7 linked regions of the Homo sapiens genome follow. The protein of the gene in region 4 purifies or fractionates together with the protein of the main gene of each other region. This does not show direct contact. Each region holds a gene or a part of one and is shown on either strand. Other genes may lie near its edges.

What was found.
Region 1: the proteins of COG5 (region 4) and ANKRD22 purify together in Homo sapiens (co-immunoprecipitation; one large-scale study listed by IntAct). This does not show direct contact.
Region 2: the proteins of COG5 (region 4) and IFFO1 purify together in Homo sapiens (affinity purification with mass spectrometry; 2 studies listed by BioGRID and IntAct, with this or other methods). This does not show direct contact.
Region 3: the proteins of COG5 (region 4) and LPAR1 purify together in Homo sapiens (co-immunoprecipitation; one large-scale study listed by IntAct). This does not show direct contact.
Region 5: the proteins of COG5 (region 4) and POC1A purify together in Homo sapiens (co-immunoprecipitation; one large-scale study listed by IntAct). This does not show direct contact.
Region 6: the proteins of COG5 (region 4) and SCN2B purify together in Homo sapiens (co-immunoprecipitation; one large-scale study listed by IntAct). This does not show direct contact.
Region 7: the proteins of COG5 (region 4) and PCDHA4 purify together in Homo sapiens (affinity purification with mass spectrometry; one large-scale study listed by BioGRID and IntAct). This does not show direct contact.

The regions. Positions count from the first base shown.
Region 1 is NC_000010.11:88,845,345-88,848,844, reverse strand, and holds part of ANKRD22 (ankyrin repeat domain-containing protein 22), read left to right. Parts: intron 1-3,500.
Region 2 is NC_000012.12:6,549,543-6,553,042, reverse strand, and holds part of IFFO1 (non-homologous end joining factor IFFO1), read left to right. Parts: intron 1-1,539; exon of another isoform or gene 1,540-1,645; intron 1,646-2,041; coding exon 2,042-2,102; intron 2,103-2,252; coding exon 2,253-2,348; intron 2,349-3,146; coding exon 3,147-3,287; intron 3,288-3,500. UniProt on the Homo sapiens protein: Nuclear matrix protein involved in the immobilization of broken DNA ends and the suppression of chromosome translocation during DNA double-strand breaks (DSBs).
Region 3 is NC_000009.12:111,031,971-111,035,470, forward strand, and holds part of LPAR1 (lysophosphatidic acid receptor 1), read right to left. Parts: intron 1-3,500.
Region 4 is NC_000007.14:107,231,921-107,235,420, forward strand, and holds part of COG5 (conserved oligomeric Golgi complex subunit 5), read right to left. Parts: intron 2,293-3,500; exon of another isoform or gene 2,162-2,292; intron 1-2,161.
Region 5 is NC_000003.12:52,078,075-52,081,423, reverse strand, and holds part of POC1A (POC1 centriolar protein homolog A), read left to right. Parts: intron 1-3,349.
Region 6 is NC_000011.10:118,164,473-118,166,639, reverse strand, and holds part of SCN2B (sodium channel regulatory subunit beta-2 precursor), read left to right. Parts: 3' UTR 1-2,167. UniProt on the Homo sapiens protein: Regulatory subunit of multiple voltage-gated sodium (Nav) channels directly mediating the depolarization of excitable membranes.
Region 7 is NC_000005.10:140,805,712-140,809,867, forward strand, and holds the start of PCDHA4 (protocadherin alpha-4 isoform 1 precursor), read left to right. Parts: upstream 1-1,356; 5' UTR 1,357-1,476; coding exon 1,477-3,861; coding exon of another isoform or gene 3,862-3,873; exon of another isoform or gene 3,874-4,156. UniProt on the Homo sapiens protein: Calcium-dependent cell-adhesion protein involved in cells self-recognition and non-self discrimination. Thereby, it is involved in the establishment and maintenance of specific neuronal connections in the brain.

The sequences.
Region 1 (3,500 bases), on a different chromosome or scaffold from region 4:
TATTGGAAAAGCTGGTACAGTTGAGGAGGAGAAGTCAGGGAATACAGGAATAGAGATGTGACTAATTGAATGGCCATTGGACTGAAAGTCAAGCAATCCTATATTTTAGACCTGATTGTGCCAGGAACTTCAAGGGATTTGAGAGGAAGTCATTTAACCTCTCTGAGTCACAGTTTTAATATTACAAAACAAGAGAGCTGAATGAGATCTGGTTTCACATTTAACATCGTGTCATTCTGTGATATGAGAAAGGCTAGGCAGAGACAATGGGGAAAAAATTGCATTCTCACAATCTTCCCAGCTCTCTCCATCTACCTTGTTTATGTATGAACTCCTAGCAAGATTTTGGTATTCAACAACATATGCAAGAAGAGCATCAGGCGTTTTCATCCCAACTGGTTTTCTAATTCTTTCCTTGTATATTGAAAGTAATTTTACAAATTAAAATGTTGTGCTAAGTCACAAAAGTTCAGAGAGAAAATGATAACTTTCACATATGAAAAGACACCAGGATTGAAAATGTGTATACCTTTATTTATTTATTCATTCACCCATCCATTTGTTTAATCAACCATATTTATTGAGTACATACTATGTTTCAGGCATCTTCTAGTTCCTGGTGTATATATGTATATATATATGTATATATACATATATACATATATATATACACATATATACATATATATATATACACGCATATATGTTGGGCATCCCTAATCTGAAAATTTGAGTGGAAGTGCTCCAAAACTCCAAATTTTTGAGCACAAACATGAAACAAGTAGAAAATTTCCTACTTGACCTCATGTGATGGGTCACAGTCAAAATGCAGGTACACAATGCACAGTTTACTCAGAATTAACAAGAGAAAAAAGAATTTCCCAGCCCCTTTCGGCTGTGATATATCTTTTTCTTGAACACCCAGTTTTTCCCATGAAAGCAAGTCCACAAAGGGTAAAAAATGGCACCTGTGCAGGATGAATGAGCCTATAGCAGATTTGCCACTCTGCCTCCATGGGGCCAAGATTTGTGTGTATTTCTCTGTGTGTGTCTTTTTTTGTTTTTTGGGGTTTTTTTTTATTTTGTTTTTGTTTTGCTTTTTCTCTACTCTGTGATGTAAATATACTGTTGAAAATATCAAAAAGGTCTGCAGATACTTATGGGTAACAGTGATAAGAAAAAAAAAGGAAGCATTTATGTATACTTATAACACAGAAAGTCAAGCTTTTGGATAAATTGGACAGTGGTATAGGTATAAAATGTCTGATAGAAGAGTATGGTGTTGAGGCCAGGCGCAGTGGCTCATGCCTGTAATTCCAGCACTTTGGGAAGCTGAGGCAGGTGGATCACCTGAGGTTGGGAGTTTGAGACCAGCCTGGCCAACAAGGTGAAACCCTGTCTCTACTAAAAACAGAAAAATTAGCTGGGTGTGGAGGCATGTGCCTGTAATCCCAGCTACTTGGGAGGCTGAGGCAGGAAAATTGCTTGAACCTGGGAGGCAGAGGTTGTAGTGAGCTGAGATCACATCACTGCACTCCAGCCTGGGCAACAGAGTGAGTCTCCATCTCAAAAAAGTAACAATAAAAAAAGAGTATGGTGTTGAAATGACCACCATATATGACTCAAAGAAATAGAAGGATAAACTGTTTAAGTCCTATGCTGAAGTTAATGAAAAATGTAAAAAAACATTCCACAAAGCTACAAATGAAGATCCCAATTGTGTATTGAGAAAGTGGATCCATCAGTATCACAAAGAACACATGCCACTTAATGGTATGCTGATCATGAAACAGGAAAAGATCTATCACGATGAACTGAAAATTTAAAAGAACTGCGAATATGCGTAGTTCTTTGGCATAAATTTAAGAAAAAACATGGCATTAAATTTTCAAATATTTGTAGTGACGAAACATCTGCTGATCAGAAAGCAGCAGAGAAATTTATTGATGAGTTTGCCAAGATCATCACTGATAAAAATTCTCACACTAGATCAAGTCTATAGTGCTGATGAAACATCACTGTTTTGGCATTATTGCTTCAGAAAGACACTGACTTCAGCCGATGAGACAGGCCTTGTGGGCAATCAGGATACCAAGGACAGGATAATTGCGCTGGGATGTGCTAATGCAGCAGGCACACACAAATGTAAACCTGCTGTAATAGGCAAAAGCTTGAATTCTCACTATTTTCAAAGAGTAAATTTCTTACTAGTCCATTATCATGCTAACAAAAGGCATGGGTCACCAGGGACATCTTTTGTGATTGTTTTCACAACATTTTGTAGCAATGGCTCATGCTCACTGCAGGGAAGCTGGACTGGATGAAGGCTGCAAGATTTTGTTATTCCTTGACAACTTTTATGCTTATTCTTCAGCTAAAATTCTCATCAAAAGTAATACTTATTCCATGTGCTTTTCCCCAAATGTGACTTTATTAATTTAGCCATGTGAGAATGGTGTCCTTAGATCAATCAGTGTAAATATAAAACATTTTCGTAAACAGTATGTTATCAGCAGTGAACATAGGTGTGGGTGTTTCGCATAAAGGATGTTGTATATGCTGTTGCCAATGCTTGTAATGCAGTAACTAAAGACAGTTGTGCATACCTGGCATAACCTCTGTCCTGCAACTATGTTCAGTAAGTATTATAAATAAAGTGACTTTGAATGATTCTGTATGTCAAATGAGAAAAAAAAAAGATGTCTGACCATACATACGCAAAAAAAAGTACCTTCAGAGTCCACCAGTAAGTTGGAAGAAGTTGATATTGAAGAAATTTTTAACACTGATAATGAGGCTCCAGTTGTTCATTTATTAACCAATGGTGAAATAGCTGAAATGGTTCTGAATCAAGATGATTGTGATAATAGCAATAATGACGATGGTGGTTAACACTGTAAAGACTTTGTCAGGGGCCAGATCAGGCAGGTCTTGTAGGCCAAGGTGAAAAATTTAGATTTTATGCAAAACACAATGGAAAGCGGGTAAAGGATCTTAAGAGAGGAATAATATGACCATTAGGGTTTAAAAAGGCCACTCTGGTAGCATGGGAGAATAAATTTGAGAGATGCCAGAGGGAAAGCTGGATCTTGGAAGGAAGCTGTTACAGTAGTTTATGGAGTGATAATGATGGTTGCATTAGACTAATGGGTGAATTTTAGATAAATTTTTAACTAAAAGATTTCCTGGTTTGTAGGTTGGCAGTGAAGGAAAGTAAGAAATTAAAGTTGATACTCAGTATTCTGCCTTAGGCCAGCCAGTGGATGGTGGTGCTGATGAGATGGGAACACTCAGAGAGGGGCAGAAGGAAAGACACATTTCAGGGTTCTATTTGGACATGGTACTTTAGCGATATCCATGAGACATCTAGGTGGGGATGGAAGATGAATACAGGAAATGTACCTTTAAGGAGAGGCTCGGGCAAGAGATAATAATTTAGGAGTTGTCTGCATATACATGGTATTTAACGCCAAGAGAAGGGATGAGTTTAGACATGGAAA
Region 2 (3,500 bases), on a different chromosome or scaffold from region 4:
TCCCCTGCCTTGTGCGTGACCTTTTTTTGAGCCCCCATTTTCCCAACATAGGAATGGTCCCTGCTTTCTCTCTTCAACCCAGGGATACAGTTTTTTGGAAGAGAGATATTTGGTCCATGCAGAACACATGGATATCGCTCTCAAATTCTGCCCATGTTAAGGGAACCTTATAAGTGAGACCAGATGGAAATGGAGGTGAAAATGAACCTGTCTGTGTGAAGTCTGGCCAAAGAACAAATAGAACTGTAGTGGGCTTCCAGATGATTCATTTGTAGATTTTTTTTACCCTGTAAGATTTCCTTAGGCTTAACCTTTAGCTATAACTGCCTTACTTAAGTTTCTTCCAGGCTCTGTTGAGCTCACTGTCAGATAGCCCCTCCTGCCCTCTTTCACACATCTTGTCCAGGGTTAGCGTGCCCTTGACAGGCTTACTGTCTCCCTCCAGGGACTCGTGGGCTCCCGGCGCATGAGGGCACCACAGTTCATGCCTTCACATCATAGATGAAGAAACCAAGACCCAGAAAAGATAAGGGTCTTAGCTAAGAAAACATAATCTGATGCGACTGGTTCCCTTAGTGGCCTGACTGTATGCATGAGAATGCCAGGGAGGAGGGGAGAAGCACCTACGGGACACACAGGGAAGGGGGCTGGGAGCCAGGAAGGCTGGGAGCTGGGCTGTGTGGGGAGCCAGCAGGGTGGTGGCTGGGCTGGCTGCCTCCTCCTGCTCTGCCCAGCAGGGAGGGGCAGTCGAGGTGATGTGGAGGAGTTATTATTAGGAATACTGCAGTGCGGCTGTGAATGAGGAGATGGGACCCAGAGGCTGACACAGGAAGGAAGATGGAGGGAAGGGGAAGAAAGGGCTTCACCCAAGGCTTCAGAAGCTGCCCACTCAGATTTTAATTTTCTTGCTGTCTTCTTGGCCCCTTCCTAACCACCTTTCTTGTGTTGAAGTTTCTCTCTTGGTGCAGTTCCCCTCCCTTCTCGGGTTGACAGAAGTGATGAGCTCACAGGAACAGGATTTGAGATGTGCTGCTACGCCAGCTAGACTGCAGGGCCCTGGAATGCCGGGCGGGTCCTAAGCAGCACGTTGCCCTGGCTTCCATCTCTGTGATGGAATAGAATATGCACTGCCTGCCATGGCTGATGAGACATGACAAAGCTGGCTCTGGGAAGCATGCCCTACCTAGGACCCTGCCCTGTGGCCCAGGGTGTCGTCCGGCCCACTTGCAGTCTTAATCTCTGAATTCTGGGCCCTGGAACAGGCTGTGTCTAGTTCTCATTTGCCGTACTCACCGGGCCCCTTTACATACTCTACTTTCTCTTTCCCTCTGGGTTTGAGTGCTAGTAACCCCAGGCTCGTGTGTCCACTGCTGTCATGCTGCTGTGGGACTTCCGGCCTCTGAGCCAGTCTGGTCACCTCTCTGTGACTCCCTTAGAGGAGGCTCTGGGTGGGTAGTTTCTGGAGCTAGTGGGGAAGGACTTTGAGTGTCTCCTACCAGGCTCTTGACCCACTCTGTTGATACACTATGTGTCCTGCAGATGCTTTTACAGGGTTAAATGATACCACAAGAGGCAGGGCAGCGGGCTCGACGAGCTCTGTTCTGGTGCGGGCAGGAGGCGGGAGCCCGGATCTGTGCGACTGAAGGTGGGAGACTGGGCCGGGTGGACCTGGTGGTCTGGTGTGGGCAGGAGGTGGGCAATGAGGCCAGCCGGACAGCTGGCTGAGCTGGGGCCTGAGCAGGGATGGGCATCACGGAGGACCGGAGCCTCAGCACTTGCCCAAACAGAGCTCCTGGTGCACAGCCCGGAGGTTCCGGGAAGGCAGCTGGCGAGCTCGACGCCCATCAGGAAGCACAGAGCCGCGTGACAGCTGCAGTTGGTCACCAGCTGGCTGGCCAGGCATTCCTGTGCCCTGCTCCTCCCCATCCAGGGAACCAGAACTGGGGTCTGAGGCCTGAGCCAGAGAGGTGGGGACAGGGAGCCATGGGGGCAGGGAAGGACTCTGTACCTAAGCTCTCTCCGCCCTTCCCATGTCTGTCAGGTGGGAAGAGGAGTACACGGTGCGGATCCAGCTGCAAGACCGTGTAAATGAGCTCCAGGAGGTGAGGGTGGCGCCCCACTTGCTGCTGGTGCTTCCCTGGGTACCCCTGTCTGCCCATGACCCTGCTGCCGTCTCCCTGTCCCTCCTTGGCATCTTTATCTTCCTCCCACCTCGGCAGTGCCACCAACATCAGGGTTTCTCCCAACTGCAGGAAGCCCAGGAGGCTGATGCCTGCCAGGAGGAGCTGGCACTGAAGGTGGAACAGTTGAAGGCTGAGCTGGTGGTCTTCAAGGGGCTCATGAGTAACGTGAGTGCAGCCCCAGGCTTCCCGAGGGTCGAAGTGAGGCTTCTGAGGCCAGAAGAGTAGGCCCTTCTAGTGTTGGCCTGTTGGCCTCCCGTCCACGGCTCCTCCCCTTCTCTTTGCTTTCCTTCCCTTTTTCCCCTAGCCACCCCTAACTCCAGAGAAAGACAAGCAACAAAAGTCTCGGTGTTGCGTCACAGAGGTGGCGCAGCTTCTGAGGGCCTGGGGTTGCAGAGCAGTTAGTGAGCAGCTTCTGGGGTGGAGGCTCTGCAGCTGGCGCCGGGGCGCTGGGCCGATTCCTCAGCCTCTGAGGCCTCACCTTTGGCGTGGGGAAATAAACGCGTGCGCTCTGCAGGAGTATTGTGAGGGTGGTCATGTACTCGGGACAGTGCCCAGCATGCAGTGTTAGCTGGAAGAGTGTTAGCTGTTGCGATTATTATAGTCCTTTCTCCACTCTTATAATTCCCAGGAGTCTCTTTCTCTCTGGGAATGTAAGTTCTAGGAGGATGAGGACCGCTAGTCGTTCCAGTGAGCCCCCTGCATGTCCCAGGCACTGGCCATGCCCTCCAGGGCTTCCGTTTGGCCAGGGAGCAGTGGCCCGAGCCGCCCCATGCCCAGCATATTCACACAGTGCTGTGGGGAGGCCACCGCTACCCAGGAAGAGGGGTGCAGTCAGCTCAGGGAGACTCCACAGAAGAGGCACCGGTGCAATGTGGTGGGAAGGATGAGGACCTTGCCAGGCCTAATTCGTCCTTGTCTGGAGAACTGGGCGCCTCCTCACTGTTCCCTGGGCTCCCTGGACAGAACCTGTCGGAGCTGGACACCAAGATCCAGGAGAAAGCCATGAAGGTGGATATGGACATCTGCCGCCGCATCGACATCACCGCCAAGCTCTGCGATGTGGCTCAGCAGCGCAACTGCGAGGACATGATCCAGATGTTCCAGGTGAGGACGGAGCTGCCCTCTGCTCTCAGGGGTGGGTGGGGCAGGTGGATGCTTCCGTGGCGGCTGGCCTGGAACGCAGGCCCTGCCTCCTGCTTGGGGAGCCTTACCTGGCAACTGGGGCCCTCACGGGGCTAGACTGGGGGGTAAGGAGCAGCATCAGGAGGGGCATCGTGGAAGCTGTCTCTAACGCCGTCTCTCCCTTCCCCCTCTCTC
Region 3 (3,500 bases), on a different chromosome or scaffold from region 4:
CTCTTACTAATGTCATATGATAGAGGGCAAGCTCCATGAGAGAAGGGGTCTGTCCACATCTTGTTTCCTGCAGTGCTATCTTCCCAGTACAGGGTGGGTACAAATGCCTACTGAATATGGAAGAAAGAGTAATATAAAGGATTAAGGAACACATAGTAAATGAAAACTAGAATTACCAACCAGATATCAGTTCTTATTCTTATTTTCCAGATGTAAAAAGAGAGGCACTTTGACCTACCCAGGAGTAGCGAAACTGGAGATAGAAAGCCTCTTGATCCCTTTTTTACCTCTTCTAGGCTTGGTTTATCTCCCAGGATCCTTCCAGATCCTAACCTTCCAGGAGCATTCCCTGACCTCCACCACCTCACCGCTGAGGGTCAAGTGCCCCCGCTTGGTGCTCCCGCAAAGTCTTCTCTCTCATAACACTTGTTACACTGAATTGTAATTATCTGTTAATCGTGTGTAAGCTCCTCCTGGAGGGTGGGAATCCTGCCTTATTCACACTCACCCCTAGTAAAACTAGCACAAAGCCTGGTATATAGCAGGCAGTCAGTTAAGTGCTCCTGAGATGGGGGGAAAAAAAGTTTCCTCTGCCCCTGAACCATTTCTCCCTCCAAAGACCCAGGAATATCCTTCAATTAGAGCAGAATTTCAGAATCAGGGCAGTTAAGGGTTGGTCAAAGAGAACCACCTAGGCATAGGGGAAGAAAATTTAGTAGAACAGATCGATATAAAGTCTAATCTAGAGCATTGTTTAGACACATAAGTTAATGAATATAGGGAAACTTGCTATAACAGGAATGGTTCACAGTAGCAATCTCAGCATAGCAAATCCTAAACTCTAAGAGACATAGCACACATAATGGCCATAATGAACAAAATTTCCTTCAACCAACAGCTGGAAATCCCACCCATGGCCAGGTATTATTAGTCAAAATTTTTTCTTTTAGAGAAAAATGCTGGTTTTGAAAACATTTTCCTTTATTTTCATAATACAACAAACACAGCTTGCCCTGCCTCATGCAGGCTTATTGCACGTTTGTTTTAGCACTGGACTAAAGTTAAGGGTCTGCCCTGTCATTATATCACTTTTTTAAAACAGTATCACAAAAATAAAATAAATTATAACCTAAATCCATGAATGTAGTAAAATAGTTCTCTTTCATTTCTGGAAAAAAATAATTACAATTTTACATGGACTTCAGGGTTAAAGTTTCTATAGCACTGATTAGATGACAGGGACATGCAAGTATTAAGACAATATTCTTTGGCCCAGCCCCACAAGTTGATAATACAACAACAACACTACTTTGAAATCATACTAACCTGCTAAAAAATGCCAAAGAGTTTAAATAAAATCATCACCACCACCATGCCACCCCTCCTCCTCTCCTACCAAAAATGTATCCTAAAATAAAGTATACTAACCTTGGGCTTCTCCAACTTAATTAACTTAATTTATTAAACATGCCAAACATAAGTTCCCTTGCAGAAGATAAAACAAACTGCTGGGAAGATCATTCATTAAATTGAATTCACAAGGTAATTGAAAGAAATTCAGCCACCTTCTTTTTCTTTTTCTTTTTCTTAAGTTTTTTGAGATGGAGTCTCACTCTGTCTGCCCAGGCTGGAGTGCAATGGCACAATCTTGGCTCACTGCAACCTCTCCCTCCTGGGTTCAAGTGATTCTTCTGCCTCAGCCTCCTGAGTAGCTGGGATTACAGGCGCCCAGCATCACACCTGGCTAATTTTTTGTATTTTTAGTAGAGACAGGGTTTCACCATGTTAGCCAGGCTGGTCTCAAACTCTTGACCTCAGGTGATCCACCCGCCTCAGCCTCCCAAAGTGCTGGGATTACAGGCATGAGCCGCCGTGCCCAGCCTCTTCTTTTTCCTGTCTGTCTCCTGGGTACCCTAGCATCTCCAGATTCAACAGCAATTCAAAGACATCCAAGTCAGTTCCACCTCTGACATGCAACTGAAAACCAGTGTATATCCTCCTGTGACACAGAGGTACTGGGGAGCAAGTGTGAACCTATAAAGCTCCTGAATACCTCTCCCAAATGGATCCCACAGAGTGAAGATAATGAGTTAAATGCTTTAGCTCTAGGGATTTAAAATATATAGAAAGCAAGTTACTTCTACTGGAAGTTAAACTTAAAGAATTCTCATGGTTATGTCATCTCTCACTGCAGTACCGAGTGTGCTACTTGGCTTCCCTCTCTCCTTCCATCTACTGCCTTGCCCTATCATTTACAGAGGCATTAATGCCGGTTTCAAACTAATAATAATTCTTTTTCTTCTGTGCTGCAAATACCCAATCACTGTGGTTAAATACCATGTATAACATAAACAGGGTCAAGAATGCCAGCTGCCAGAAGAGTCATGTTTAAATTAGCATTAACCAGCAAGCCCTTCCCTAAACAAAAAAGAGAGGGGAAAAAAAATGTTTTCTTGGACAGCTCTGTGCCTGCAGAATGACTTCAACCCCACATGTTCAAAAGGCTCCACAAGGTCCAGCTATAACACAATAGCATCATTAATTTTTACTAAATTAAATTTCTCAAAAGTATAAAGCACTATCAATTTGCGGAGAGTAGGGAGGAAGAAACTACTTATTAGTTTATTCTACAACCTTTATATAATTTGAGTAAACAGGCAATAGTGTCTTAAAACGTAGCAGCCATAAGTTACACGGATTGTAATGGAATAAAAGCCCAGTCCTCCATCCATCATCGCACCCCTCACTCTGCCCCAATATGTGTTACTCAGTGTCTTTCCACATCTTGAGGTTATGTAATACTTCCTCCTTGCCTCCCTATCCCCATGTAGCATAACTCCTTAAAATAACATCAGAGGTCCCCCACAATTTGTCCCTTCGTAACTTTCCAGCCTTCATCACCCCACACTCTCACTTTGTCTTCATTCCCCCACCATTCATCTTTTAAAAGATATGTTATTCTTCAAGCCACATTTATAAATTCGTCCCCTGAATCAAAACGTAATTCTCCATTCCCTGGCATGCCAAAGTTCTTGGACTCTACAGCTACCACCCAGTTACACAACACTGCATATACATATTCGGTATGAACCGTGAGGCTCACTGCATCTTTCCCCCCTGTGTTGCAGTTCTTTCTGGAGCTTCCTTTTCACCATCCTTGCATCTACCACATGGAAGGAATTCAATAATTGTTTGCTGAAATAGAATTACCTCCTTTTCTCTCAACTTTCTAAGACATCCATAATAGTTTTCCCTAAGATTTTTTTTTTTAAGAGACAGAGTCTCTCTGTCACCCAGGCTGTAGTGCAATGGCACAATCACAGCTCACTGCAGCCTTGAATCCTGGGCTGAAGCCATCCTCCCTCCTCCGCCTCCCAAGTAGCTGAGACTACACGCACATGCCACCATACCCAGCTAATGTTTCTATTTTTTTTATAGAGACAGAGTCTCACTATGTTGCCCAGGTTGGTCTCAAACTCCTGGCTTCAAGCGATCGTCCT
Region 4 (3,500 bases):
ATAAACACACATACATACACACATAATGATTCTTATTAAGCAAAATGATAAGTGCTATGTCAAACTTATGACCTCAGTGTCGAGAGAGTTGGAGAAGCTTCCTTGGGATGGTCTTGAGGATGAACAGTAACCAGGTTAATTTCTCTCATAACATATTAAAGACATGGATTGCATACTGCATGTCCTAGAAGGAAACCTTATATGGCTGGGAAACTATAAAATGAAGAATCATAAATAAATATAAAGATAAAAATGTAAGGAAGAAAAAGGATTCTTGCCAACAATGCAAAACAGAACAGCTGTGAGCCAGTGTGCCCAACTCAAAAGACAGTAGGTGATAGGCTGTTCTTTGGAACCTGTTTCATTTATTCACTGGGTAGGAATTTCTGTTTTCTTTCCATATGTGTCACTTACTTTACACTGAGCACAAAGGAAAAATGTGATTATCACTGTATCTTTGATATAATTCCATTCAAATACCTCTCTCTATATAATGGTTTTTTACATACTGAAATTATATATTTTTCACGAAGTGTTTTTGTCAATTTCTCAACTACTCTAGTGGAATCACTGTCTTCAAAGACAACCTTTGCCTTAGCACTTGAGCAGGACCAAATGTTAAAACAAATAAATGGCTAGGAAAAAGTTACGATATGAGAAAATATGACCTCGAATGGCTGGAAAATGTATGATTATGCAAAAGATTTCTATGCCGCAGGACAATTTCAAAATGTTTAATGTTTAAAATAAAATTTTTTTATCCATAAAGGACCTCTAGGATATTGTAAATCATTTTCTTCTTCCAGAATTCCATTAAACAATAAAGGCCATGTTTTAAAGGGCAAGAGTGTTGTGGTAAGAGGAGGTGACTCTGCCATTAGCAGCGGATACAAAAGTGGCATGTGCAACTGCTTCTCTCCAGCCCCCGTTTGGAGAGAATGAGCGGTCAGCTGCAGGCACGGTGAACTAATTACATAGCTGTTCCTTCCCTACCACAGACATTTGGTTAACCACAGGACTTCTTTGGATACTCCTAGGGTACTCCTGCCCTGACATTGTTCAGGAGAAGAAAAGGCAATAGGAATTAGAACAAAAATTAGAATTTTGATTGTCTTGTTTTCTTTTCTAAATTAATATTTTTAGGCACAAAGTGAAATAGATATAAATGTATGCTTAAAGGGCACCAGAAGACCTATAAATAGAAATTGCTAGAAGTACCACTAAATAATTTAATACCAACTTCAATAGCCACTCTTTCCTTCAGCTAAGAAAATAAACTGAGGGGTGGAGGGGGAGTATGTGCTTCAGAGGACACTGTGGGCAAGATCCCAGTGAGATTCAGAATCAGCAGAACCCCAGTGTCGTGGACAGGCTTAGTGATTTCAGAACTGCTGTGTGATCAGTGTAGGCACTGAGACCATGTGGTCACAGTGGGGAATTAATTACCTGTAGGAAACCACCTCGTGCCCATGACCTGGATTCCTAAGGGGGCTGGATGTCAGGTACTTCCCTCACCATGATCCCTCCAGATGGCACCCTGCAACTACTTTCTCTTTCCTGCACTGGTGCCAGTGAGGAGAAGTTAGGATTCTTAAAGAAATCCTGAAAATACGTCATTATCTCTCTTTGCAATTGGACTTTACGGCAAATAACTAGTATTCCCAAACCTGGTCTATAGGTCCCTTCTTGAGCTCTTTTTGTTATTTATGCTAGAATGGCAGGCACTTTTATCACAAGAACAGTTTTTAAACCCATGGAGTATTTGTGTATTTTTGATTTCAGTGACCTCAATGGCTTTAATTTTGAATATGAATTGATAGAACTTTCAGTAATAAGGCAGTTGAAAAGCCCTCTAGTCCCCAGTTGATGCCTGTCATGAATATAAATGTTAGAGTAATGCTATTTAAATGTTTTGACTGACCCTCGAAAAACACTTTCAACCAAATGTGATGCTAAAAGCTGAGGTACAACAAATAATTGCAATTGTGGCAAGAAACCAAACCAAACGAAATAAAACCTTGAAATTTTAATTTTAATTTAAAAAGTGGGTGGGGGAGACCATGACATAACAGTAGAACAATATTTGCCAAAGATAATGATCACAGATATGATTAATTATGATAGTGCCTCCGCCTGTCTTTTCTGTACCCATGATCCACAGGACTGGAGCCATCCCCAAGGTGAGTGTCAGGATGTTTTGAAACTGGGACACACTGTACAGGGGTGAACAAAGGAATCTGCTTTTCAATACCACACTGCCTGCTGCAACCAAATGTCACTGCAGGGCTTAACAGTGAGTAAATGCTGTGTGTGTAAATGCTTCTTCTATGTTTAAAAAACAGGAAACAAGAGGCCTTTGAGCATAAGTTAGTAATAATGACTGATGAGTTTAATTTACCTTAAGGGAAGGGACCCAGAAAAGTTTGGCTTATTAGACAACATGTCTTAAGAAAAAAGGATGCCAAATAACATTTTGAATAATGCAGTTTTTTGAAAGGTGGAAGCTCACCCCTGCCTCTGGATGCTATGCATTTTGAGCAGGTGTTAGCGGCAGTAGCAAGGGTTAAAGGACAATACTTTCCATCTTTCAGGACCCATAAGGGAACATATTAAAATAAAAAACAAAAACAAGCCTCTCTCCTACAGCACTCTCGTTTTGGCCATCTCCTGCTCGGCTGCCACTCTAATTGGACTTGAAGTGCTGCCTCCAGGAAAGTGACTCAAGAACCAGCTGGAGCAGAATGCAAATAAGCTGGTAGGGGAGAGAGCCCAGGGAAAGAAGATGAAACAAAAAGAAAAACAAAATTAAGGAGGAAAGGGGAAGAGGAGAACAGAGACCATCTGAGTATAGTTCACACTTTTTTTTTTTAAACAAATAAGAGGAGGTTCTAGTACATCATCAGGTTTTTAATAAGCAATCTGGAACCCCAGTAAGGGACAAATAAGACACTATTTACAAATAACTTTCTTTAAGCCAAGTGTACCTGTAAAACAAAGTTAAATGTACAGGTGCCTAAGAATGAAGTTCATAAAATGTAAAAGGTAAAAAGAGCCATATTAATGGTAACGTTTAATCTCTGTTTTTATGCTGTGGCTACTACAAGCATATTTTCCAAATGAAGGCTCATTTCTATGGTCTAATGGTCCCAGGAATATTATTTGGAGATGAAAATGACTAACTGCTGCATCAGTCAATTTGCAATGAAACAGGCTCTTGAAAGTTTAGGTTTGTGTTACCTGTTCCTTTTTTGAAAGTGTGTCAAGTCTGAGGGAGCACCTGACAACCACTGACTTGATACAAGCAGTCTGTCCAGGTCCTTTCCTCCATGTAGAAATAATGAAGCAAGACACACTCCCGGATACACACAAGAATAAATATTGACATTAACATTTATCTTTATAAGTGGGGAGGATCTGGCAAATTGCTATGAAGAATTCATTTCAGTAACTATTTGGACTAGTAAAGCTAACAGCTTTGAAAGGCTTAAAAATGATTTTAC
Region 5 (3,349 bases), on a different chromosome or scaffold from region 4:
CGAGTCTGCGTATTATCATCCTGGGCCAGGCACAGGCCAGCGTTGGGGAGGTGCTTTGTGAGAGTTTGAGTAAGGGAAGAGCGAGGGCAAGGGTCAGCAAATTTAAACAGTAAAGATTTTAGGCTTTGTGGACCATACAGCCTCTGTCAACCTGTCGCTGGACCCAGAAGGCAGCCAGAGACCATACGGAAGCCAGCAGGCGTGTCCATAAAACCTTATTTACACAAAGGGGCAGCCGGCCGTAGTTTGCTAACCCTTGGTCTAGAGAAACAACAGAATACATTCGATGGCAAACAAGTGATTTTAAGGCCAAGGCTTTCTTGAGAAGGGCCATGGCTTCCAGGAAATTGCTGGTAACAGAGTAGGAAAAGGGTTCAGAAATGAGCCCCCAGGTGAACCTCGGCAGATGTGACTTTGAAGATAAAACTTCTGGAGCCCTGCTGACCACACCCCATGAGGCTTCCTGACACTGGCCATGAGGGCCTTGACTTGGGAGGCGGACAGTATCGGGTGAGGAGTGACAGTGCCCAGGCCATAGGGTCCTCAATCCGGCTTCCTGTCACTCCGATTTAGGGAGAGAGAGGTACCTTGTTTAAAGTTGAACCTTGTCTTCAGGGGATGGGCCACCCAGCAGTGACCCAGGCGAGTTCCACAGCATGTTTTGGGGCTGATCACTTAATGCTGCAGTGGCACAAGTGCCAGTGAAAGAAGCGTTGACAGTGAAGTGATTGGGGCAGCTTCTCGTGGTGCATCCAGGAGGAGGTTCTTGTCACTATGTCCTTTCGGTTCCTATAATATTGAGTTTTCATGGCTCACATGAATTATCCTTATGACCTTTGTAATAATTCCAAACCTAAATGTTTAGCCAGGTAAGAGACTGCTTTTCAGGGGGAGGTGACACATGAGGCCTGACAATGTGAGGGGGTGGGTGACCCTGGGGGCTGTCCATTCCCACTGTGGCTGAGGTAGGAGTTTCTGCTCATTTAATTCAGAGCAGCTAGGCCAGGCAGCCTAAACCAGGACAGCAGGTGCTGCTGCTGGGTGAGGACAGGGATCCCCTAGTCTTTCCTCAGGCTGCCTGAGTTTGGGCATCAGGGCTGGAAGTGGGATGGGACACCAGCAGGCCTCTCCTTTGGCATTCTTGATGGGGACAGAGCCAAGATGCACACTACCCAGTGCTTTAGTGTGCTCACTGCAGCCAGGCCACCTAGGCTCACAGCCTAGGCTTGTCACTGATAAGCTGTGTAACTTTAGGCAAGTTACTTAATCTCACTGTGCCTCAGTTTCTTCATCTGTAAAATGGGGATGATAAAAGCTCCCACGCTGAAGGTTTGTTGAAGTTTTTGGCACACACGAGCGTCCCGTGAAAGTCAGCTGCCAAGAGAAGCCCACAGAGCAGAGGGTCAATGATCAGGGTGAACCGCCCTGAGCCCAGTCCCAGGACCTCCTGCTGGTCCCCCTCATGTTTAAGCTCCACACCCCAATTACATGGAGGACTTAAGAATGTTCCCAGGGTAGCACCAGGTCCAAGGAAAGGGAATGAGCTGCCTGGTTTCTCCAAGGTCAGCAGACAGAAGGGGCCGCACTGTGGAAGAGTTGGACCCCAGCAAGAGGGAGTTCTGGGAGATGGGCCATCTTTCCTGGCCACTTTGCCCAGGCTGCCCCTCTAGCAGCCAGAGCCCTGGACTCCTCAACCCCTTCGTCAGTTTCCCTTTACCCTGCCCCAAAGCCAGAAGCCATGGACGCTTGTGTCAGGCAAAGCAGTTTCCCTTGTTGACACCTGGCACCTGACACAGCCTGTACCTCTTTGGGGACCTTCTGAGGGGCTAGGACCAGACCTCTGGCCCCTGCTCCCCTGTACAGAGCACAGGGTGAGAGGCAGTGTGATCAAGGAACTGTTTGGAAGGTCAGCGCTCATTTTTCCTTGAATAAATGAAAGTCGTGGCTTCCAGGCCATGGAGTGTGGACCCGGGGAGGCCGCAGAGGTATTTGCCTGCAGAGCGCTCCTCCTCACCCTCCAGGGCAGGTGTGGCCTTGTCTCCAGCCTGGTGAGGACAGGCGCTGGTAGCAGGATAATTCCCGGGCTGGACGGAGCATGAGGCGACGAGAGCAGCCTGCTTGGCTGGGCCCCGCTGGGAGTTGGGCCACTAGGCAGCAGGTGGAAATGGCAGTGGCCTGTGTACACCGAGGTAGCATGTATTTTCTGAACCCTCGTATGGGTATGTGGGGATGTGCTTACTTTTTGTTGTGAACCGACAGGTAAAGATCATATACATTCTGAACAAGGCCACGTGATATGGCTCCAAACCAGTCTGTGCCAGGGGTACTCCCCACACACCCCTTCTGCCACCTCAGATGCTCTCCTGCCCTCCTCCCACAGCTCCCGTGCAGCTGGGGAAGCACGGTGGCACTGTGATGGCCTGTCCTGGCTGCTCTGGGCCTGTGGCCCAGACAGACTCCCTGCAGGTGGCCTGCCAGCCCTCCTGCCTGTGTGTGCCACCAGCCCTGAGTGTGTCTCCACTTTGCCACTTGGATGCCCAGTGGGGCATTTCCATCATGGGGGAACCCCTTCCTTCCCCTTGTAGAGGGAAGGCACACCAGCAGCATTTCAGATTTCCATGTTTCAGCCGGGCGCAGGGGCTCACGCCTGTAATCCCAACATTTTGGGAGGCTGAGCCGGGCGGATCACGAGGTCAGGAGATCGAGACCACGGTGAAACCCCGTCTATACTAAAAATACAAAAATATTAGCTGGGCGCAGTGGCGGGTGCCTGTAGTCCCAGCTACTCGGGAGGCTGAGGCAGGAGAATGGCATGAACCCGGGAGGCGGAGCTTGTCGTGAGCCGAGATCGCGCCACTGCACTTCAGCCGGGTCGACAGAACGAGACTCAGTCTTAAAAAAAAAAAAAAAAAAAAAAAAAGAGATTTCCATGTTTCACTGTCTATGAGGAGTCACCATTTTCTGTGAAAATGAGGTCCTATGCTTTATTAAGAAAATTTGATTTTTAAGAAAAATATAAAAATTTTTAAGAAAGTAGGATTTTTTTTTTTTAACTACATGGAGCAAAGAGTGCCAGACAGCATTCTAATGTACAGAAATCCAAAAAGCATCCTGCTCTCCCAGGCCTTCTCCTGGCTCAGAGTGGGGGCAGCTGGGATCACGTGTGCTGGGAAGGGCCTGGTTGGACTTCTTTCTCCCTGATGGTGGCCACCACGAGGCACCTTGGCAGAGAAGGAACAGGGGAAGCTGAGACCAAACACAGAGATGACACAGCTCCTCTGAAGCTAGGCTGGAGGGGGAGAAACTGCCTTGAGGGGTGTTGGGCCTCATAAAAGCCTGTTTGTCTACT
Region 6 (2,167 bases), on a different chromosome or scaffold from region 4:
CTGCCAGTCCCTGGGGGGAGGCAGGAGGCACATGTGAGGGTCCCCAGAGAGAAGGGAGTGGGTGGGCAGGGGTAGAGGAGGGGGCCGCTGTCCACCTGCCCAGTGCTTGGCCTGGCAGTGGCTTCAGAGAGGACCTGGTGGGGAGGGAGGGCTTTCCTGTGCTGACAGCGCTCCCTCAGGAGGGCCTTGGCCTGGCACGGCTGTGCTCCTCCCCTGCTCCCAGCCCAGAGCAGCCATCAGGCTGGAGGTGACGATGAGTTCCTGAAACTTGGAGGGGCATGTTAAAGGGATGACTGTGCATTCCAGGGCACTGACGGAAAGCCAGGGCTGCAGGCAAAGCTGGACATGTGCCCTGGCCCAGGAGGCCATGTTGGGCCCTCGTTTCCATTGCTAGTGGCCTCCTTGGGGCTCCCGTTGGCTCCTAATCCCTTAGGACTGTGGATGAGGCCAGACTGGAAGAGCAGCTCCAGGTAGGGGGCCATGTTTCCCAGCGGGGACCCACCAACAGAGGCCAGTTTCAAAGTCAGCTGAGGGGCTGAGGGGTGGGGCTCCATGGTGAATGCAGGTTGCTGCAGGCTCTGCCTTCTCCATGGGGTAACCACCCTCGCCTGGGCAGGGGCAGCCAAGGCTGGGAAATGAGGAGGCCATGCACAGGGTGGGGCAGCTTTCTTTGGGGCTTCAGTGAGAACTCTCCCAGTTGCCCTTGGTGGGGTTTCCACCTGGCTTTTGGCTACAGAGAGGGAAGGGAAAGCCTGAGGCCGGCATAAGGGGAGGCCTTGGAACCTGAGCTGCCAATGCCAGCCCTGTCCCATCTGCAGCCACACTACTCGCTCCTCTCCCAACAACTCCCTTCGTGGGGACAAAAGTGACAATTGTAGGCCAGGCACAGTGGCTCACGCCTGTAATCCCAGCACTTTGGGAGGCCAAGGCGGGTGGATTACCTCCATCTGTTTAGTAGAAATGGGCAAAACCCCATCTCTACTAAAAATACAAGAATTAGCTGGGCGTGGTGGCGTGTGCCTGTAATCCCAGCTATTTGGGAGGCTGAGGCAGGAGAATCGCTTGAGCCCGGGAAGCAGAGGTTGCAGTGAACTGAGATAGTGATAGTGCCACTGCAATTCAGCCTGGGTGACATAGAGAGACTCCATCTCAAAAAAAAAAAAAAAAAAAAAAAAAGGCAATTGTGCGGAGCCAACCATCACTGCCATTACACTCACATTCAATGGAAATTGATTAGGCCTGAGAGAAGGAGCAAGAGGCAGAAACACTGACTCTGAGACCATGACCTTGGAAGATCCTCAGAGATCAACTAGCCAAGTCACTCACTTAAAATGGGGAAACTGAGGTTCCAACTGACAGAAACTGAGGGTCCTGCCCTCTTCTCTGGCTCCTCAGTCTCCAGTTTGAAGCAACAGAGCCATCATTTTCCCAGTGGGAGGGGCCTCTGTGTCCTGGTCTATGATGGGGCGAGTTGGAGGGGTGGGCTTCTCTAGCCCTGCCCCCTCCCAGGAGCCCAGCCCCTCTGGCCAGGACTGAGGAGGAGTGGAGGGAAGCAGGGAGGGAGGGAGCAAGTGTGAAGGGCACAGCTGCTGGCAAATGCCCCATTCCCTGCCCCAGCACTTCCCAGCCTTTCCAGGAGCTCTGCCCCACCCCTACTCAAGGAGTCAGGTGCCCAGGGTAGGGAATAAGTCTAGGAAAGGGGGTGGAGACAGGACCGTGACAGTCTCAGGGACCAATCCCTGCCTCTGCCCATCAGATTGCCAATTTGGGGAGACAGCAATATCATCTGGGAGATTCAGCTTAATTTGCTTCAATTCAGCAACCATTTATTGAGCATCTATTATGTGCCAGGCACTGTGCCGGGCACTGGGGATATACACAAAGCCATAAGCACTGGGGACTGCCAGGTTGGCACTGTAGGGACCAAGATTAACTTTTTGGTGCATCTAATTCCACCTCTGCAAGACACTGCTTCCAAGGCTACAGTTGGGGAAGATGAAGAGATTCTAGAATCTGTGCCCTGGGAAGGGAGAAACAGCAGGGAAGAGGGGCAATACAACAGGGTCAAGGGTGCAGAGGCCAGGCAGAGTGGGTGCAGAGTGGGGGATGGGCAACCAGCCTGGTAACACCTGGGTGAGGTGAGCGAGTCAAGCCCATCTGGAAATGC
Region 7 (4,156 bases), on a different chromosome or scaffold from region 4:
ATTAAGCTAAAACCCAAGTTTTCAACATTGAACTTGAAATACATCTTAATTGGGGAAATGTCTAGAGACTTTTTTTGTATCTTTAGAAAATCATAGAGGCTATTGAAACACCACATTTTCCCAACTAGATATGCGATCACCTTAAATTAATGCATTTTATTAGGCAATGGAAGGAAGCAAACATTTTCTGCAGGGTAAATATTTAGGAAATATTAGGTAAGTCCCTCTGAGCTATTAAACAATTAAGATACAACTATTCCCTTTAAAATATATATTCCAAAAAAGGACACACATACTCAAATGCTTATAAGAGATAAATTAATGTAATAAATGGCCCACGCGATTCCACCCTGGTGCTGCAGTTTGTAAAAGAAGAAAAAATACCTGTTCAATTGGTTTGATCATGACATTCTTCATGGGTCAGGGAAGTTTTAAGTGGTTATAAAATGGGGTAAATTGGCTTTAGAAGAGTTTAGAAATGATGTGGATTACTTATAGACAGGACAAAATGAACATGCTTGTTTATTAAAAAAAGCTATTGGAAGCAGGAAATATTCAGTTTGGCTAAAATATATAAGCACTATAGGAGAAAATAGAAGCTTAGGCACATTACATACTGGAGAACAAGCAAGTACTTATAAACTGTAAGAGTCAAAATGAGAATACCAGCGTTTCTCATGGGAGCAAATGAGTTCCAATGAATAAAATTATTTGGAATGCTTTTCCATGCAAGCTATTTGCTATAACTTCCTGCTTCCTTGCACTTTCAGCCCTGACATGACTCAAGGAAGACATCTAATTAAATGCTGATGGTCTTTGATCCTTTTATAAAACATCTGCAAATTTCCCTGTCAATAGCTTGTTCTTGGCACCAGAAGTTCCCTAGAGACCAGTCCCCTCAAGTCAACAACACCAGAAATACTAGGGTGAAGAGGGTGTTATCATTAATAAAAAAAAACCCTGGAATTCTTGGGAACACAGGAATCTGTAATGAATTTTTCTAATCAACAGTTTACAGTTACATGTTTACAAAGTGTATAGTTAGGTCTCTGTAATACTTAAAACCTGTGTTGAAAAAATTATTTCTACTGAAGTAAAAGTTGCCCCTATGGCGAAACTAAGGACCACACTCAATCAATCAGTGGTACAATGTGTACCACAGTAGTACAAAATGTATTCCTATTCTCCGAAACGACTGAAATAATAAATAAAACCAAGTAGTTTACAGTAGAGTGTGTGGGGGTTTCCACAATTGCTACTTACGGTTTGGAGCCACATGATGTCGCTCTTTACCACAAAATACATGAGAGAAGGAGGAAGAAGGGAAAATTCCTTCTATTCTTACTGGAAGGAACCATATACACTCTTTGGAGTCTGAAATATGGAGGATGCAGCTGCACTTGACTGACCGATTAAAAGATTTCCCTTGACTTTGAGAAACGATATTTAATCAGAACAAAATACTGTGCACTAAAGATGGAGTTTTCCTGGGGAAGCGGCCAGGAATCCCGGCGTCTGCTGCTCTTACTTCTTCTCCTCGCAGCCTGGGAGGCAGGGAACGGTCAGCTCCACTACTCGGTCTCCGAGGAGGCCAAACACGGCACCTTCGTGGGCCGCATCGCGCAGGACCTGGGACTGGAGCTGGCGGAGCTGGTGCCGCGCCTGTTCCGGGTGGCGTCCAAGGGCCGCGGAGGCCTTCTGGAGGTAAATCTGCAGAATGGCATTTTGTTTGTGAATTCTCGGATCGACCGGGAGGAGCTGTGCCGGCGGAGCGCGGAGTGCAGCATCCACCTGGAGGTGATCGTAGACAGGCCGCTGCAGGTTTTCCATGTGGACGTGGAGGTGAGGGACATTAACGATAACCCGCCGGTGTTCCCAGCAACACAAAAGAACCTGTCCATCGCGGAATCCAGGCCGCTTGACTCTCGGTTTCCACTAGAGGGCGCCTCGGATGCAGATATCGGGGAGAACGCCCTGCTCACTTACAGACTGAGCCCAAATGAATACTTTTCTCTGGAAAAACCACCTGATGACGAGCTGGTAAAAGGTCTTGGGCTTATATTACGGAAATCTTTAGACAGAGAAGAAGCTCCGGAGATTTTTTTAGTGCTCACAGCCACTGATGGAGGCAAACCCGAGTTGACTGGCACCGTTCAGTTACTCATCACAGTACTGGATGCCAATGACAATGCCCCAGCTTTTGACAGAACCATTTATAAGGTGAGATTACTAGAAAATGTTCCTAATGGAACATTGGTAATTAAACTTAACGCCTCAGATTTAGACGAAGGATTGAATGGGGACATTGTTTATTCATTCTCAAATGATATTTCGCCAAATGTGAAATCCAAGTTTCACATAGATCCAATTACTGGACAAATTATTGTAAAGGGATATATTGACTTTGAAGAAAGCAAATCCTATGAAATTATTGTAGAGGGCATTGATAAGGGACAGCTCCCACTTTCTGGCCATTGTAGAGTTATTGTGGAAGTAGAAGACAACAACGATAATGTCCCAGATTTGGAATTCAAGTCTTTATCACTTCCAATTAGAGAGGACGCTCCACTGGGTACAGTCATCGCCCTGATCAGCGTGTCCGACAAAGACATGGGTGTCAATGGGCTGGTCACCTGCTCCTTGACGTCCCACGTCCCCTTCAAGCTGGTGTCCACCTTCAAGAATTACTACTCGTTGGTGCTGGACAGTGCCCTGGACCGCGAGAGCGTGTCAGCCTATGAGCTGGTGGTGACCGCGCGAGACGGGGGCTCGCCTTCGCTGTGGGCCACGGCCAGTGTTTCTGTGGAGGTGGCTGATGTGAACGACAACGCTCCGGCGTTCGCGCAGCCCGAGTACACAGTGTTCGTGAAGGAGAACAACCCGCCGGGCTGCCACATCTTCACTGTGTCTGCGTGGGACGCGGACGCGCAGGAGAACGCGCTGGTGTCCTACTCGCTGGTAGAGCGGCGGGTAGGGGAGCGCGCGCTGTCGAGCTACGTTTCGGTGCATGCGGAGAGCGGCAAGGTGTACGCGCTGCAGCCGCTGGACCACGAGGAGCTAGAGCTGCTGCAGTTTCAGGTGACCGCTCGCGATGCCGGCGTGCCACCTCTGGGCAGCAACGTGACGCTGCAGGTGTTCGTGCTGGACGAAAACGACAACGCGCCAGCACTGCTAGCGCCTCGGGCGGGTGGCACTGGTGGCGCAGTGAGCGAGCTGGTGCCATGGTCGGTGGGTGTGGGCCACGTGGTGGCAAAGGTGCGCGCGGTGGATGCTGACTCGGGCTACAACGCGTGGCTTTCGTACGAGCTGCAGCCGGGGACTGGTGGCGCGCGCATCCCGTTCCGCGTGGGGCTGTACACTGGCGAGATCAGCACAACGCGTGCCCTGGACGAAACGGACGCTCCGCGCCACCGCCTACTGGTACTGGTGAAGGACCACGGCGAGCCCGCGCTGACGGCCACGGCCACTGTGCTGGTGTCACTTGTGGAGAGTGGACAGGCGCCAAAGGCCTCCTCACGGGCGTTGGTGGGCGCTGTGGGTCCCGATGCTGCGCTGGTGGATGTCAACGTATACCTGATCATTGCCATCTGCGCGGTGTCCAGCCTTTTGGTGCTCACGCTGCTGCTGTACACCGCGCTGCGGTGCTCTGCGCTGCCCACCGAGGGCGCGTGCGCTCCGGGCAAGCCCACGCTGGTGTGCTCCAGTGCGGTGGGGAGCTGGTCATACTCGCAGCAGAGGAGGCCGAGGGTGTGCTCTGGTGAGGGCCCACCCAAGACCGACCTCATGGCCTTCAGCCCCAGTTTACCTGACTCTAGGGACAGAGAAGATCAGCTGCAGACAACTGAGGAATCCTTTGCAAAGGTTAGTGTATAACATCCTTTTGTTTAATTTTCGTATTGTTTTTCTCTATCAACTTCTTCGTAAATTTATTTCTAAGAGTCAAATTTCCCTGGGTTAAAATTTTACCTCTTTTTACATATCCATTTTAACTAAAGTCTTTTGGAATTATAGGACATCAGAGCAATATATATTGCCTTCCTTCATTTTATGCTGCATTATTCAATGCATATTAACAGAACTGTAATTTCTAGTAAATTTTCACTATATTCACCCTCTTTGTTTTTGGTAATAATCAACATTTTAGAAAACATTTTAC